Linked DNA regions of Homo sapiens: region 1 is linked to region 2. Evidence: fine-mapped expression QTL. A gene starts in region 2. The other region holds a variant in brackets. All regions are shown on one strand. Distances are from middle to middle.

What was found.
Region 1: its variant is fine-mapped to the expression of LINC03082 in aorta (GTEx, PIP above 0.99).

The regions. Positions count from the first base shown.
Region 1 is chr13:110,052,117-110,060,448 of GRCh38, forward strand. It overlaps LINC03082 (long intergenic non-protein coding RNA 3082), which reads right to left. Exons shown (of 3, transcript NR_187462.1): 2 at 3,994-4,112. LINC00396 (long intergenic non-protein coding RNA 396) reads left to right here and starts at 1,169. Exons shown (of 4, transcript NR_126387.1): 1 at 1,169-1,195; 2 at 1,735-1,797; 3 at 1,898-2,066; 4 at 2,657-2,836. The variant C/T (reference allele first, on the strand shown) is at 4,951.
Region 2 is chr13:110,125,387-110,133,718 of GRCh38, forward strand. It overlaps LINC03082 (long intergenic non-protein coding RNA 3082), which reads right to left and starts at 3,750. Exons shown (of 3, transcript NR_187462.1): 1 at 3,471-3,750. LOC101927712 (a long non-coding RNA gene) reads right to left here. Exons shown (of 3, transcript XR_931726.3): 2 at 7,704-7,814; 3 at 6,576-7,204. RefSeq lists enhancers at 712-1,520, 1,521-2,328.

The sequences.
Region 1 (8,332 bases), 73 kb before region 2:
AGGATGTGGAGAAATAGGAACACTTTTACACTGTTGGTGGGACTGTAAACTAGTTCAACCATTGTGGAAGACAGTGTGGTGATTCCTCAGGGATCTAGAACTAGAAATACCATTTGACTCAGCCATCCCATTACTGGGTATATACCCAAAGGATTATAAATCATGCTGCTATAAAGACACATGCACACGTATGTTTATTGCGGCACTATTCACAATAGCAAAGACTTGGAACCAACCCAAATGTCCATCAATGATAGACTGGAGTAAGAAAATGTGGCACATATACACCATGGAATACTATGCATTCATAAAAAATGATGAGTTCATGTCCATTGTAGGGACATGGATGAAGCTGGAAACCATCATTCTCAGCAAACTATTACAAGGACAAAAAAACCAAACACCACGTGTTCTCACTCATAGGTGGGAATTGAACAATGAGAACACTTGGACACAGGAAGGGGAACATCACACACCGGAGCCTGTTGTGGGGTGGGGGGAGGGGGGAGGGATAGCATTAGGAGATATACCTAATGTAAATGACAAGTTAATGGGTGCAACACACCAACATGGCGCATGTATACACATGTAACAAACCTGCACATTGTGCACATGTACCCTAGAACTTAAAGTATAATAAAAAAAAATGTGGCACACCGTGGAACACTATGCAGCCATAAAAAAGGATGAGTTCATGTCCTTTGCAGGGACATGGATGAAGCTAGGAGCCATCATTCTCAGCAAACTAACACAGGAACAGAAAACCAAACACCATATGTTCTCACTCATAAGTGGGAGTTAAACAATGAGAACATACGGACACAGGGAGGGGAACATCACACATGGGGGCCTGTTGGGGGTCGGCGGCTAGGAGAGGGATAGCATTAGGAGAAATACCTAATGTAGATGACGTGTTTATGGGTGCAGCAAACCACCATGGCACGTGTATACCTAATGTAACAAACCTGCACGTTCTGCACATGTATCCCAGAACTTAAAGTATAAGAATTTAAAAAATAGCCATTTTAGTGGGTTTCTTCCTATGTGTTTCTCTGAAGTCCTCCTCTCTTTTCTCTCATATGGACATCAGTCACTGGATTTAGGATTCATCCGAAATTCAGGATGAGTCATCTTAAGATCTTCAATTACATCTGCAAAGCCTCTAATTCCAAATAGTCACTCTCTGAAGTCCCAGGTGGGTGTGAACCTTTGGAGGACACAAGTCAACCCAGTGAGTAGGAAGTGGAAGTTGAGGTTCCTTTTTTCCACATGGATATCCAGTTCCAGCATGATTTCTGAAAATAACTTACTTTCTTTCTGCCATGATGTTCAAATATGCTTTATTCTCACCAAATTTTGGTCTGTTGGTTCTACCAATCACTGAAAGAGAAATGTTGAAGCCATGGAATTGTCTTGGTGGATTTTGTCTATTTCTCCACCAGTTATGCCATTTTCTTCGTGTATTTTCAAGCTCTGCTATCAGGCACACACACATCTAGAATTATTGTCAGTTTTTCCCTGTTCTTCATTTGGATAATTTCTATTGCCCTGCATCCAAAGGCACTATTCTTTTCTTCTCTCATATCCAAGCTGTTGTAAGCCAGTCCAGTAAATTTTTTTATTTCCCATATTATATTTCTCAGCTTTAGAATTTGTGTTTTATTCTTTTTAATAGTTTGGAATTTTTGTTAAAATCCCCAGCCATTCACCTTTTTGTTTCTCTTTTGCTTCAAGTCTCTGAAATATCAGCTGCTTTAAGTCCTCGTCTGCTCATTCCCACATTCCCACTACATCCAGGTAGGTCTCCACTGACCTTTTCCCCTCCTGGTTATGGTGTTCATCTCCCTGCTTCTTTTCACCTCTAGCGATTGTTTTAATTGTGCGTTTAACATTATAGGATGCCATCCTGCTGAAATGCTGCACTCTGTCGTTGGAGCTGTGGGTGTCTCTGAAGTCCTCCTCTCTTTTCTCTCATATGGACATCAGTCAGATGTAAGGGCTGCTGAGTTTTGCTTGGTCAGCAGTGAATTTATCGGTGGGACTGGCTGACTTTCGCAGGCTTCCCTGTAAGTTTAACTGGAGAAGTCCCCGCATAGCCCTACCTGGCAGCTGAGAGAGACCCGTGCACGGCGCGTGCCGTTCTGTGTCCCTGTTGAATGCAGGTGTGCAGTGCGGTCTCCCCAACCTTCTGCGTGGGCTACTCTGGACTCTCCGTTCTGCTCAAAGTGTTCTTTGTTCTCCATGAGGCTCAAGGGGACTCTCCGCAGATTTCTTCAGATCCTGTCAGACACCCACTGCAAACCTTGCCACCTCCTCACACACCCCAACCTCTACCATCTGTCCGCAACTCCATGAGGCCACCATGCTGTACATGGGCTCCACCCGCTCATGCCACAGTCCAGAGAGAGCATCTCAGCAATCCCAGAGCACACCCCACGCACCCGCCAGGAATCCCACCCTTGGCTGTGGTCCTCAGTGTCTGAAAACAGGTGCTTCATGCATTCTGTTCAGTTTCTACTTGTTGATGTGGAGAGGGATACTTCAGCACCAGTACTCTGTTGTGTCTCATAAATGGGTCCTAATTAGTATTTTCTTACTTTCTGGAAACAAAAGTTTGGTCACTTACTGTGTTTTCCTTTTTCTTCTTTTTTTTCAGGCTTTCAGGAAGCTCCTCAGAGGTGAATCAGATAATGAAGCAGAACAAGATCTGCCCTTGTGAATTGCTTATTTGATTGCCATCATCTTAATTTTAATTTTATTATAAAGTGTGTAGGCAACACAGTTGAAGAAAACTGTGAAGCCACAGGAGCCTAAGCAATAGATTCGATTCCTTCCATTTGACTCCATTGTCATCCTTCCACTTCATATCCCTATCCCATCCTACCTGGTCTCATAGTGACTGTCGAATCCCCCTTAGCCTGCATTCTGAACAAATGCACCTAGTTGGATTCCTCTCTCATCCTTGCAAAAACAAAACAAATAAAGCAGAAACACCCTTTGCTCATGTTTCTACCAAAATAAGCATTGCCTGTGAGCTCTATGTGCCTTACTTGTGTTGTGCCCTCTGCAGCGCCCAGCAAGATGCCTGATCCACAGTCAGCAGACAACAAACAGCTTCAAGGCTCTGTTGGGTCAGGGCAGTCTTTAGATGAAAACCCTGCTCAGTGAGGAAACCACAGTCTCACCACAACGGGGCATTCCAGGAGCTTGTCTGTGTCAGCATAGATGTTCGCCTCTGCACAAGGTGTTGTGAATTACTGTACTTGCCCTTCTTCTCTATCTAGGTCATTTTTCTTTTCCAATGGTGCCTTTAATTTAGATTTGGGAGGGGTTAAGATACTGGCAGCTCTTTGTTCTTTGAGCTTATAAAACAATGACAGAGCTAGAGTGTTCTTCTGAGCAAGGCGATCTGCTGGTTGATAATGATGATATGAGAGAGAAATAGCAGATGTGTTTTAGTGTCAACACTGAAGGACATTCCGAAGGCCTCATCCCTAGCTCAGACATAGGGCTCCACGCAGCTGCTGATCTTGTCCATTACTGTATCAGTCAGGTTTCTCCAGAAAAACAGAACCAACAGGAGATGAGAGAGAGGACAATTTTAAGAAATTTGCCATGCGATTGTGCGGCGGCCGAATCCAAAATCAGTGGTGCAGGTCAGCAGCTGGAAACTGAGGCAGGAGCCAGTGCTGCCATGTTGAGGTGGAACGTCTTCCTCTATGGAAACCTCTGTCTTTAACAGTAAGGCCTATGGCTGGCTGGGTGAGGCCCACCCACATTACAGAGTGTAATCTCCTTTACTTCAAGTTAACTGATTGCAGAGACTGAGCACATCTGTAGAATACTTTCACAGCAACACCTAGATCCGTGCTTGATTAAATACACGTAAAGAATTGCTTATGGAGGCATCCATATAAACAAGTTTTAAAGGGATTGGTTTTAAGTTTCATGGCAAAAAATACAGAAGGTAATTAACGTACAGAAAATATTTACCCTTGGTCAAGTGCAGTGGCTCATGCCTGTAATCCCAGCACATTGGGAGGCTGAGGCAGAAGGACTGCTTGAGGCTAGGAGTTCAAGACCAGTCTGGGCAACGTAGGGAAACCTTGTCTCTAAAAAAAAAAAGAAAAAATTTAAGTAGCTGGGCATGGTGGTGTACGCCTGTAGTCCCAGCTACTGGGGAGGGTGAGCTGGAAGGATCACTTGAGCACAGGAGGTCAAGGCTGCATTGAGTCATGATGGCACCACTGCACTCCAGCCTGGGCAACAGAGCGAGACCCTGTTTCAAAGAAGGAAGGAAGGAAGGAAAGGAAGGAAAGGAAGGAGAAAGGAAGGAAGGAAAGAATATTTACCCTTGGCAGTCATCAAAGAAATACAAATTCAAACAAGATTCCACTTTTCACTTTTCAAATGGATGAGATGTTGTTCTTCGTCGGATATTTTTAGACCCCTTATTGTCCCTAAAGTCATGTTCATGGACTGTCATCCCTCACTTTTTCCGTAACAACATTTCATCCCAAATTTCTTAGGTGTCTTGATTTTCTGTCAAATTGAGGCAGGAGAGGAAAGAGACTGGGTCCTGCAGACATGTGACAAAGCAACACAGGTCCTGATGGCCCTCACACATCCGGGCACGTTCCCTCCCCCACTTGCACCCCTTAACAAGTAGACTGAGTCACGGAGCAGGAAGGGGTGGAGGTGCTCCTAAATCTGCTGACCAGGCTGAATTCCTGACCATACAAGGAAGGACCTATCTATCTCTTTGAGTGATGCCTTCTGAGGTCACTGAAACAGGACTCTGGCATTCCCTATAAGGACCTGACCAGGTCCAGCTGCCTGAAGACCAGAGGGACTGCAGCCTGACCCTCACGCCTTTCTCCTCATTTGAATGTCATCGTAATATTAAAATCACTGCCCAGGGTGGGGCTCCTCTGCCATTTTCTGGTCACC[C/T]GATGCAAGTTAAAGCATGAAGTCCCACTGCGCAAGCAAAGAAAAGACAAAGGCCTCACCTGAACATGCATGGACGTCACTCTGTTCCCACCTCACCTTCCTGCCGGTGACACGCTGGGGGGCTGGTGTCCAGATCCTTTTCCCGCAGCTGCTCCGTGTGCCCAGCCCCAGCCTGTGAGCCCAGCCTGGGAAGAATCCCCAGCTGGCCTGGTGTCACCATCCACTCACACAAGAGCCAAAGAACTCAAGGTCCGGATGCAGTCACAAAATAAGCTCTTTTCTTAGCTTCTATAAAAAGCCAGGGAGGGAGGGGTTTTCAGTCACTGGGAGGAACAAGAAACCAAATAACCAAAAAGAGGCAGCCGAGCCCTGGAGCTGCCACACATCCAGCAAACATCATCAGACCCTTCGGGATGCCAGGACAGAGGTCAGAACCCAGAACCCCAGGATGCCAAGATCGAGGTTCCTTCCCTCACCGAATTATTTTTAAAGTTGATACAGTGTAACTGAAAACATTAAATTATATGTGACCTGCAGACACCAAAGCCATCCTGAAATGTAGGAATCTCCCAAGCCCTGGGCTGCCCTCACCTGCCGCCTGGCTGTACTGCCCTCCTGGGCTGTGATCATATATGCATGCGAGGATCTCAACAAAGTAATCCTGTCCTCAGCACACGCAAAGCCTTAGTTCACTGCACCCCTCTGGCGTACGGCAGGGCTATGATACCCCTTAAAATTGTCCTTGATGAGATAAAGAATTGAAGGAAAAAATCAGCAAAAACCTTTTTTCTTTCTCTTGCAAATAAAAAGTATGACCAACATAGCAAGAGAAAAGAGTGGGAGAACAGAATCAAAGTAGCTTTAAAAATACATCATCTCCCAGAAGTCAGGAAGAACATGATTAGCATATATGACTATGCAAACATCAAACAAATTAAACTAATGCATGCTTTTAAAATACCATAAACAAATTAAAAATCCACTTAAAAATATTTACAACATAGAAAACATATCAAGACCCAATTTCCTTACTATGCAAATACTACTCACAAATTGACAGAAGAAAAAAACTTAAATCACCTTACATAAAAATAAGTAAAGTTTAAAAACACAGACAAACATTAAAATATGTACACATTTAACATATAATTATAAAGGAACTTTAAATAAAAAGAAGACATAGGTTTTTACCTGCTAGACAAAAAACGAGATAAAGAGCTTGGTAATTTTCAGTGAGGCCAGGAATAAACAAACATCCTTTCACTTGAGTGGAATTGGCTACAGCCTCCGTGCAGGGCATTTTTACAGTAGCAATCAGTGATTCAAAATGCAAGCCCCCCTTATACTAGTGATTCCACTTCCAGAAATGTACTTAATACTTGATCAAGGCTGCAGGTATATGTTGTACAATGTTCCCTGCAGCAATTTCCTGAAGCTGGAAAAACAGTTGGAAGGAAGCTAAGTGTTCACAAATAGATGTCTGTTAAAATTATTATAGAATGTCCTCCCAAACAGCACACGGTCTTTTAAAAGAATGAGGTAGACATATATTTGCTGACATGGAAAATGGTCCAAGTAATATTCCGTGAAGGCAGGGAGCAAATTGCAGAAGTAGAATAGCATTTGAGTAAACATTTCTGGAAGGATGCTCACCAAAAAATGTCCAGAGTGGTGAGCTTGTAGGGACAAGGCAGGGATTCAGAAAGAAATGTTGCTTTTCACTTTGTGCCATTCAGTAACATTTGAAACTTTGTCCATAAGCATACATACATTACTTTTGTAATAAAAAACTAACTTAAAATTTTAAAAAATTAAAACAATAAAACAGATATTGAAAGTATATTAACATACTGATATATTTTAACAGCTCTGAATTTTGAGAAATGTCTTGGCTTGAAAGGTCATTAAGGGTGAAAAGAGACTACTGAATATGATATTTTTAGTAGAATCCCTTGTTAAATGGGATACCCACTACTATTAGTTAGGATATAAAGATAAATATTAATATAATACTTACAGGCACATGCCTGTAATCCCAGAACTTTGGGAGGCTGAGGCAGGTGGATTGCTTGAGGCCAGGAGTTCAAGACCAGCCTGGCCAACATGGTGAAACCTCGTCTCTATCAAAAATACAAAAAAAAAAAATAGCCAGGCATAGTGGCACGTGCCTGTAATCCCAGCTACTCGGGGGGCTGAGGCATGAGAATCACTTGAACCCGGGAGGTGGAGGTTGCAGTGAGCAGAGATTGAGCCGCTACACTCCAGCTTAGGTGACAGAGTAAGACTCCGTCTCAAATGGAAGCCCCCTTTAATAGTCTGCATTATAATATTGACTAATATTTGTAACACTTTGATTCACAACTACACTATTGAAGGCACTACTGAAGGCACTTCACTACTGAAGGAAGATATCTGCCATAGTTACTGGCAATTTATTTTACCCCCTTACCTTAAATTTTACATTATTGTTCCCTCTTAAAAATGATACAGTCATCACAGTTCTTTCATTTTGCCAGATGTGAACCTTTTATCCAAAGGGAGTTTTGAAAATGATGTAGATTTTTCTTCTCTGCAAAGCATATTCAGACTATTTGGGAAGTTGTAGATTTCTCTGGGGTGGACCTAGTTCCTGACTCCTGGAGCTCACAGTCTGTTCCTAAGCTAGCCAGTCCATGGCATGTCACGTCCTAATAAATAAGATTTCAAATGGTGACTGTGATTCTTCATAGGAATATAAGAAGAGCAATCTCTCTCCAGTCGTTTTTTCTTGCATTTCCAGCTTGTAGTCACAGTTCAATCAACCTTCCAATCCACTACTTCCAGACTTAGCTCATCAGTTAATTTCTTTCCTGGGCCTGGCACTTCTTTATTTCTTCTACTCCAATCCCCGAAAAAAGTTGAAAGTGGAATAAAGAAAAAATAGGATAACTATCTCCACCAATGACCCGACTCACCTCTTATAAGAAATCAATTATAAAGTATTTTAGGCAATTAAAAATATAAAGCAGTATTTTAGGTGTGCCCATCAGCAATGACTGGTTTGCAACCTTTTTTTTTTTTTTTTTTTTTGAGACAGAGTCTCGCTCTGTTGCCCAGGCTGGAGTGCAATGGCGCGATCTCGGCTCACGGCAACCTCCGCCCCGTGGGTTCAAGCGATTCTCCTGCTTCAGCCTCCCGAGTAGCTGGGATTACAGACACCCACCACCAGGCCTGACTAATTTTTTTTGTATTTTTAGTAGAGACGAGGTTTCACCATGTTGGTCAGGCCGCTCTCGAACTCCTGACATGGTGATCCGCCCGCCTCGGCCTCCCAAAGTGCTGGGATTACAGGCGTGAGCCACGGTGCCCAGCCCTGGTTTGCAACATTTTATTGAAAGATTGA
Region 2 (8,332 bases):
TTGCCTGTACAACCTTCATGGGTCTACAGCCTTTATTTTTTGCATTGAAGGCCAGCAGGGGGCTGGTGCAGTTCTGCTGCAGGGGTGGATCGGCTGGGCTCAGTTCAGGTGTGTTCCACACCTGTCAGCCTCACGGCCAGGAAGCCACCTGAGACACACTGTCTCCTGACAGAGCTCAGGAGAGCAAGAGGTGTGAGGAGATGCACTTGGTGCCCTTATGTCTTGGTGCACCGGGCACGTGGTCAAGCCTGTTCACATGCACAACTGTCCATGGACACAACCAAGGCACAGTCCAATGGCACTAGTCCAAGGGAGGGGTGAGGACTTGGGGGCAGGAATCCAGCCCTTCCCAAGCCCTAAACCCTTTACAACAGAAGGGCAACTAAATACACAGGGAGACAGGTAGACTCACAAGTGATCAGAATAAAAGCCAGTGCACACCCCAGATAACTGCAGCGGCCACGAGCCTTGTAAAGACCCATGTTTTACGGAGGCAGCCACCAGCTTGCAGAAGCTGAGCTTCCTGTGGCCCTGATTCTGCATTACTGAACTACTCATAGAACCACTGTTTCTGTCCTCAAAGCTTCTGTCTTGGTCCCATTGCCTGACTTTATAACAACCTTGAAATACCCACCAGGACTGGTGATCTCATTCAAGACACAGAGGTCCGTCTCAGGCACTGTGCTGGGGCCTGCCTGTGCCCAGCCTGCCTGTAGGACTTTGGAGTCCGCAATGTCGAAGTCCTTCTGCATTTACACCCTGTGGCCTGAACCCTGACATCATCTCACCCCCAGACCACCCAACCCATGACTCTTGGACACAAAAAGAAATATCTTCTCCATTAGAAACCAGCACCTGAACGCAGCCAGGGTCCCCGGTCACACCAGAAACTGTTGCTTTGACCAATCTCCACAGGGATTTTGACAATCAAGCATAGAAACCACCAAAAAAGTAAATACCGAGGTTGTATTTTCTTTTCTTTTTCCTTTTTCTTTCCTTTTTCCTTTTTCTTTCCTTTTCTTTTCTCACCAATGCATCCACTTGTTTGGACGAGCAGGTCATAAGGACAGGCAGGAGATGAGTCACATCTGACTTCACAAAAGTGCTTAAGCCTTTTCACAATCTCCATTTAAAGCCAGCCAAGCCTTTTAGAATTGCCCATCTCACAGGAATGTTTGTAACAAGGCTAGGAAGGAAGTGTGTGCTCAGGTCGGCCCGTCCCTGGCTCCCGGAGGCAGGCTCTCCGGTGCAGCGGCAGCTGCCAGCCCTGGGGTCGGGCTTCATATTTTCTCATGCCTTCAACAAGTCCTCCCTGGAGGAGGGGCAGTAAGCAGAAGGCAGTACAAGTGGCACATTCTCCTTCTAATGAGCACAGCACACTAACGTCTCTCGGAGGGGGCCCAGCTCTCCTCACGTTCCTCTGGGCCCAGGCTCCCTGCCAGCCTTTTCTCTTCCCCAGAGCATTCAATCGCTGTCAACAGAGCCAGACAAGAATAGAAGCCGCTCAGAGACTCTCTTTTGTTTTGCTGGGACACTTCAGCACATTCTCATGGATCCTTCAAAGGAAGGCAATTATCTGATCATTCTTGGGAGCAATTAAAATGTGGAAGGATACATCCTGCTTCAACCCGCCGAGTTTGTCTTTCCAAATCACATGGGCAATTGATTACACCATCAACAAACCCCATGTAACCCTCCAAGGAACGAGGTGCGTCCCTTGCAGTAGAAAACCGATAACCCAAGACATGAAGGTTCGAATGGATGATTGGCTTAGCTGGAATTGTGCTCCTCTGGAGGAGACTTTTTAAATGTATTCCTAGTTGCAAGTCCAGAAGCAAGGGAAGTGAGGCCCTCAGGGTTCTATCAGAGCCTGGGAAGGGGAGGAGAGCAGAGATGCTAAAGCAGTAGCAGAAGATCCACAGACCCCTGGAAGGACATGGAAGCTCGCTTTGAGCTGCTCCTTAGTTCATGGGGGTCTCTCCAGCATAAAGAGCTTCCTTCCTAAAATGGGAAGAGGGCTGTTTGCACAGAGAGAAGCGTAGCCTTAATACTGTACTTTGTCCATCCCTCCAGAAAGCCCAAGGGAGGGGGCAGATGGTTCATCTGCAAGTGATCCCAGGCCTAAAGCAAAGAGATGGATGGTCGGAGCCTCCGCGCGGTTTTTCCTGGCTACCTCCATACCACCATGTCACCTCTCTGTAAAGGCGATATAGGGAGCACCATCTGGGTGTTGTAGCTCATCTGGCTGTTGTAAGGAGTAAATGAGATGGGACGTGCCACACACATGATATGTGCCCGGCTCACAGGAGGCACCTTAGTAAGTGGTCACCATCAGATATACTAGTGAACCTGAGAGTGGCCCTTACCAACGTGGAAGGCTGGGGTGTTTGTAATCATCACTCAAGGCAAAGCAGAAAGAAATCTAGGCTATTTTTTAAGACTCATTGTGTTTGGTCACAGGCAAAAATAGAATCCATCCTCATGCAACCATCCTTTAAATAGTATTTCAACAGAGGGTTAAAGTGTTGGTTTGGGGTGTGAGAGTGATACCTTATTCATTCAGAAGTCCCTCAAAGAAGAGGATGGAGAAACAGACACGATTCCATGAAATGATCACTTTCCCCAGGCAATCACACCAAGGAAGGTCAAAGAACCTCCTCCCCGAAGGTTCACTGCTGGAGGTGGAGATCACAGCCAACTGACAATATAACTGCTGGCAGATATTTTTAGGTGGAAAGTCCCACCGTTTCCCGTACCTCACTGTGACCCTCATTACGGCATTAGGATGGGATTACCTTGCTCTCTTCTGAAATACTAGCTTATCCGTGGCACCAGCAACAAATACAAGCAGCTTGTCTGATGGAAAGGTCCTCTACTTAAGAACTAAACTTCCCCCAAATCACAAGCCCCTTTGCTGAAACAATGAAAAATTTAGGTAAGCTCTGGATTGAACTATTTCCCTCCCTTTGAAATAACTGGATGTTTAGTCATAACAAATAAGAATGATTCTGGTATCTTGTGGTCACGACATAGCATTTTTATGTTTTTTTTTTTTTATTTTTCACTTTACATCTCACTACATGGACATGCTACCTTCAATTCAACCCCAGGTTACATCAAAACCTCTTGACCTTTCATTTAAAGACAAATAAAAGGCAGCTGCTGGGCTGTGAAATTGTGAATAACAAACGGAACCATTATTTGAAAGGTTTCAAATTCTGATGAACAGAAAGATTATTTTGGAAAATCTATAGCGGAGAGTAGTATAATTATAACTTAGATTTGCGTGGTGCTCAATCCAAACTCATCTCCAAACTGAACGTGGTTTTCTAACAATAACATTCCTCCAAAAAAGGGGGCAGCCTACAAACCAACATAAGCGTAAGATGCACTTCCTGTCCAGCTAAAAATAAACCTGCAGACATTTGAAAGCAGCATAGAATCCTTTCTAACAATAAAAACAAACTCACCCATGTCGTTGGGCCAAGGCTTTGACATTTTAAAAATCATTATGGTGAAAAATAAACGCAACCTATAACGTGAGCTATTGTTAGAAATCCTTGAGAAAAATGCCTCAAATAGAGAACTCGAACGTCCACTCGCTAAAAATGAAACCGTTTTACTTGGGCATTGTCAAAGGTCGAATGGTTTTCTCCAAAAATGATGTTGAAGTCCTAACCCCCAGGACCTCAGAATGTCACCTTATTTGGAAATAAGGTCCTTGCAGATGTAATTAATTAGAACGAGGTCACATTGGAATGGGGTGGGCCCCGCATCCAATAAAACCACTGTCCTTATAAAAAAGAGGCACGCCACGTGAAGACCGAGACACACAAGAAGAACACGGGGTGTGGCTGAAGGCGGAGGTTGTGACGACGCATGTACAAGCCTGCAGGAGCATCCGCGAGCACCGCTGGCCCCACCGGAAACCGGGAAGAGGCAGGACAGCTTCTACCCCGAGCCTCAGAGACAGTCTGGCCTTGACATCACCTTGATCGTAGAATTCCAGCCTCCAGAATGGTGAGACACAAATTCCTGTTATTTTCAGCCAGGCAGTTTGTGGCACTTCGTTTCAGCAGCCTAGGAAGTGAATATATTCACTTCCATATACGTGAAATTGACATCAGTGAGGATTTGCTCTCTAGGCAGTAGATGTGAACCGGCCTTCAACGATTTTTTTTTTTCTGGCTGCATGTTGGGCGCTCCCAGCTTAGGGGGTGGGTGTGCAGGGAGTGGGGAGGGAGGCGCTTCTGCTTCTGTGGCTCTCCCATGGTCTCTTCCCACAACATCTTCTGCATCTCTGTGGATCCGGCTGCCCCCAGCGCAGCAGCCCGGGTGGGGTGGGAATGTCCAGCACTGCGTCGCTGCCAGCCCTCTGGGCGTTCCAAGTTCCTGGCAGGATCCGGATGCAGTGTGGTTGACCTTAACTACCCAGGAGAGGGTGAGCTCTCCTACAGAAGACTTGGACATCTTCTCTGCCTTCTCATTTCTGTGTCCACAAAAAATCAGCACAATGGACACTGGATCCTGCTCTCCCTTCCTTCTCTTTCCCACCAACGCACACTTTGGCAGTCCTGGCACCAGCATGGGATCCACCCCACGCACACCCACATGCACCCCACACTCACCTCCAGGGAAGAAGCACATCAGTGAGAGGAATGGCTCTGTCCTCAACTCAGTAGGAGCCAGCACCCACCCCTCCCCTCTGTTGCCACTTCAAAAGGTTTTCTTTGTTCGCTTGTTTCTACTTACCATTAATGTTCTTCAGGCTGGATAAGCTTTAAGGTGTGTCCCTTGACATATTAGATCTATTTTACTCTGCCATTTTATAATTAAACAGGGTCTGACTGAAGTTACCTTTGGCCCATGTATGTCTAATCCTACCAAGTCCTAGCCATGAAACAGGTGATATGTGTATAAATGAAAACAGTGGGTTAAGAGGATGCTTCCAGAAGTATTAAGGCACCCACGCACACACACAGACAAATACGCTCCACTGAAGATCATTTAGAACTGTGGGTACAGGGAAGCACTTAGAGAACTGTATTACAAGAAGATTCAGTGGAAAATCTACCACCAATCCTAATTCATTTCCCTACAGAACCTTAGTGTGCAGTTCGTAGCCCACCTTCAGCACCTGTATGGGATTGGGGCCACTGAGTATTCTGTGTACACATTCGTCATGGTCTTTTAAAATCACCCTCATTGTTGCTGGCTTCTGACTGCCTCTCAGCTGTGCATTAGTCAGGATGCTGCAGCGAACAGCTGACATTAAGGACCTTAGGATGAAGGGACATTTTACCAAGATAGGGGCAGAGTTTAGGAAAAGCAGTAATGTTTAGTCCACTAAACCAGGGGTCACCAGCCTCAGGGCTGCAGAGAGGGGGAAGAAGTCTTATCCATGGCCCTGGAGGGCAGCCCCATAGTGTTTTGTTTTGTTTTGTTTTGTTTTGTTTTGTTTTGTTTTGTTTGAGGTGGAGTTTCAGTCTTGTTGCCCAGGCTGGAGTGCAATGGCGTGATCTCGGCTCACAGCAACAACAAACGGCTTAGCTGGAATTGTGCTCCTCTGGAGGAGACTTTTTAAATGTATTCCTAGTTGCAAGTCCAGGAGCAAGGGAAGTGAGGCCCTCAGGGTTCTATCAGAGCCTGGGAAGGGGAGGAGAGCAGAGATGCTAAAAGAGTAGCAGAAGATCCGCAGACCCCTGGAAGGACATGGAAGCTCGCTTTGAGCTGCTCCTTGGTTCATGGGGGTCTCTCCAGCATAGACAACTCCCTTCCTAAAATGGGAAGAGGGCTGTTTGCACAGAGAGAAGCAGTAGCCTTAATACTGTACTTTGTCCATCCCTCCAGAAAGCCCAAGGGAGGGGGCAGATGGGAGGAGGCTCCACCTCCCGGGTTCAAGCGATTCTCCTGCTTCAGCCTCCCGAGTAGCTGGGATTACAGGCATGTGTCACCATACACGGCTAATTGTGTATTTTTAGTAGAGATGGGGTTTCTCCAGGTTGGTCAGGCTGGTCTCGAACTCCCGACCTCAGGTGATCCACCCACCTCGGCCTCCCAAAGTGCTGGGATTGCAGGCGTGAGCCACCATGCCCGGTGGGCAGCCCTATAGTTTGAGAAGGTGGTGACCAGAGCTGCAGCTTCCAGCAGAGAAACCCAACACCCCACAGCACCCTAACAGGAGACCCTGAGTAAACACCTCCTCTGTCCTCCTCCTGCTGCTGTTGCCCCCCATCCAGCCCCTGTTGGCCAGACGCCACCGGACCCAGGCACAACGGTGTCTGCTTCTGAGGTGCGGGCCGCCTCCCGGAGGGAACAGCAGGCGGAGAAGCTGATGCTGGGCTGCAGAGGATGCCTTTCTGAAAGCTCCAGTTATCAGTGGACAGAGACAGCAGCTAACCAATGCCTGTCAGGGAATCCCAGTCGGCATTTTCCTTTTCCTTTTGGAATTGAGCTTCTCAGGAAGAGTCTACAGTTCCCCACACTGAGTCTTATTCAGCAAACCACAGGACCCCAGGCAATCTCAAACGAATGCCTCTTTTTTTTTTTGAAATTCAACATTTTAATTGTGATATAACTTATGTAAAAACTTTCCAAAAAGTATCTAAGATATTCCACTGTACAACACATCAAAACTTTATCTGAGAAGCTGGAGACAATGAAGTATAAATAAGGCACACAGTTTACACTCATAATTGCATCCTAAACTGTTGTATAGTTCGTATTTACAACCCCCCATAACGTTTTTGCATCCTGGATTAGTCCTTCACATTTTGATATTTGGCATAATGTTCAAACACACTTTATACATCAAAAAGAGCAGCTGTGAGTGCATCCCCTGGCTCACGGGGCAGGCGGGAGCAAAAACCAGGACAGGGCAGGTAAAGGAGCCGCCCCTCCAGTCCTCGCTGGTAAGAGCCGCAGCAGAGAGCACTGAAGGCAGAGCACCTGATAGGAAGCGGGCTGTTAATTACACAAACAGGAGCAGAGGGGGGTGGGGCCTAGGGACCCCTCCCATGCCCACAGTCCTGCCAATTGCTCAGTGCCATCATTTATCGGGGGCCCCACAGGCAGTGCCGTCTTCATGGCTCCTCCTGGCCTCATTCACATCGCTGAGATGCCTCTCAAACACAGCTGTTCTCCACGGCCCACTCAGTGGATTTCACTGCTCTCATCTGTCAGTTTGCTTTTCAAAAGCTTATTCCTTTGTCCAGAGAAAAAAAGAGAAAATGAGTGTGTAGGCTCATCTCTAAGGAGAGTGGCAGAGATGCCACCTGCCAGTGCACAGGAGGCTGCAGGAAAAGAGGCAGAAACTCACAGGCCCCCAGGGAGCTCAGCTGGACAGGACTCAGAGCTCAGCAAAGGGTGGGGGCTCTCGGCTGGAGTCAGGATGCCTGGAGCCAGGGAGGCCAGGGCACAGGGGAAGAGGGCCTGCCCCTGGGGTGGGGCTGCCTGTTTCACACTGGTGAGAACGGCAGTATTGGTTGCTGATGATGACTCCTCACAACGCCCCCTTAGAAACCCTCGCATGCAACGGTTCCACATCATCCTGGCCCAGGAAGGAGAGAGCTGCATTTAAAAGGAGAAGGCAGGGCGAGGGAGGGAGACCCTATGGGCACTGCTTCATTTCTGCCTTTTCGTGAAGCTCATACACAGAATTGCTTTTTAGTTAAATGCTGGGGTTGTAGGACACACACCCTCACCTGTGATGGAAATTCTGCCAATATCGGGGAGAGCTGGTCTCTTCAACCTGTGCTGTGATGAATGGGGCTCTGCTTTTTCAACATTTCCCGGGAGCGCTCTGTTTCTTCTTCCTTGTAGTTTTAAAAGAACAGCTTCAATAACCTGGTAGTAAAGGAGAGGGGAGACCGGCGAAAAATCTAGCCCAGAAAAGAATGTTAAATACTGGGGGAAAAGCTCTTGGGAATTAGAATTTCATTTTATGTCTAGAAAGTCCAGTAAAATGTCAATAATATTGTGACAGGTTAGAATTATACGATCCTATTTCTCTCTTAGGAATATATGATCAATCTTTAACATTATGTTAAGGATATTATGGCAGATAAGGATATCACATAAGTATATTATGGCAAATAAAAAGAAAAACAGTATATTATTTCTGCGCCTATATTCGCATCCCTTTGCAATGTGACTTTGTGGCCCCTGTCCCCACCTCAAGAGGTAGAGTTCATGGTACCAAGCCCTGAATCTGGGCTTGGCCATGTGCTTTCCTTTGGCCAAGGAAGCATCAGCACATGTGACATCAGCAGAGGCTAAGTGCTTTTGCACTGAGGCCTCTCTCTTGCTGCTCTTGGGAACTCTGACTGTGTGG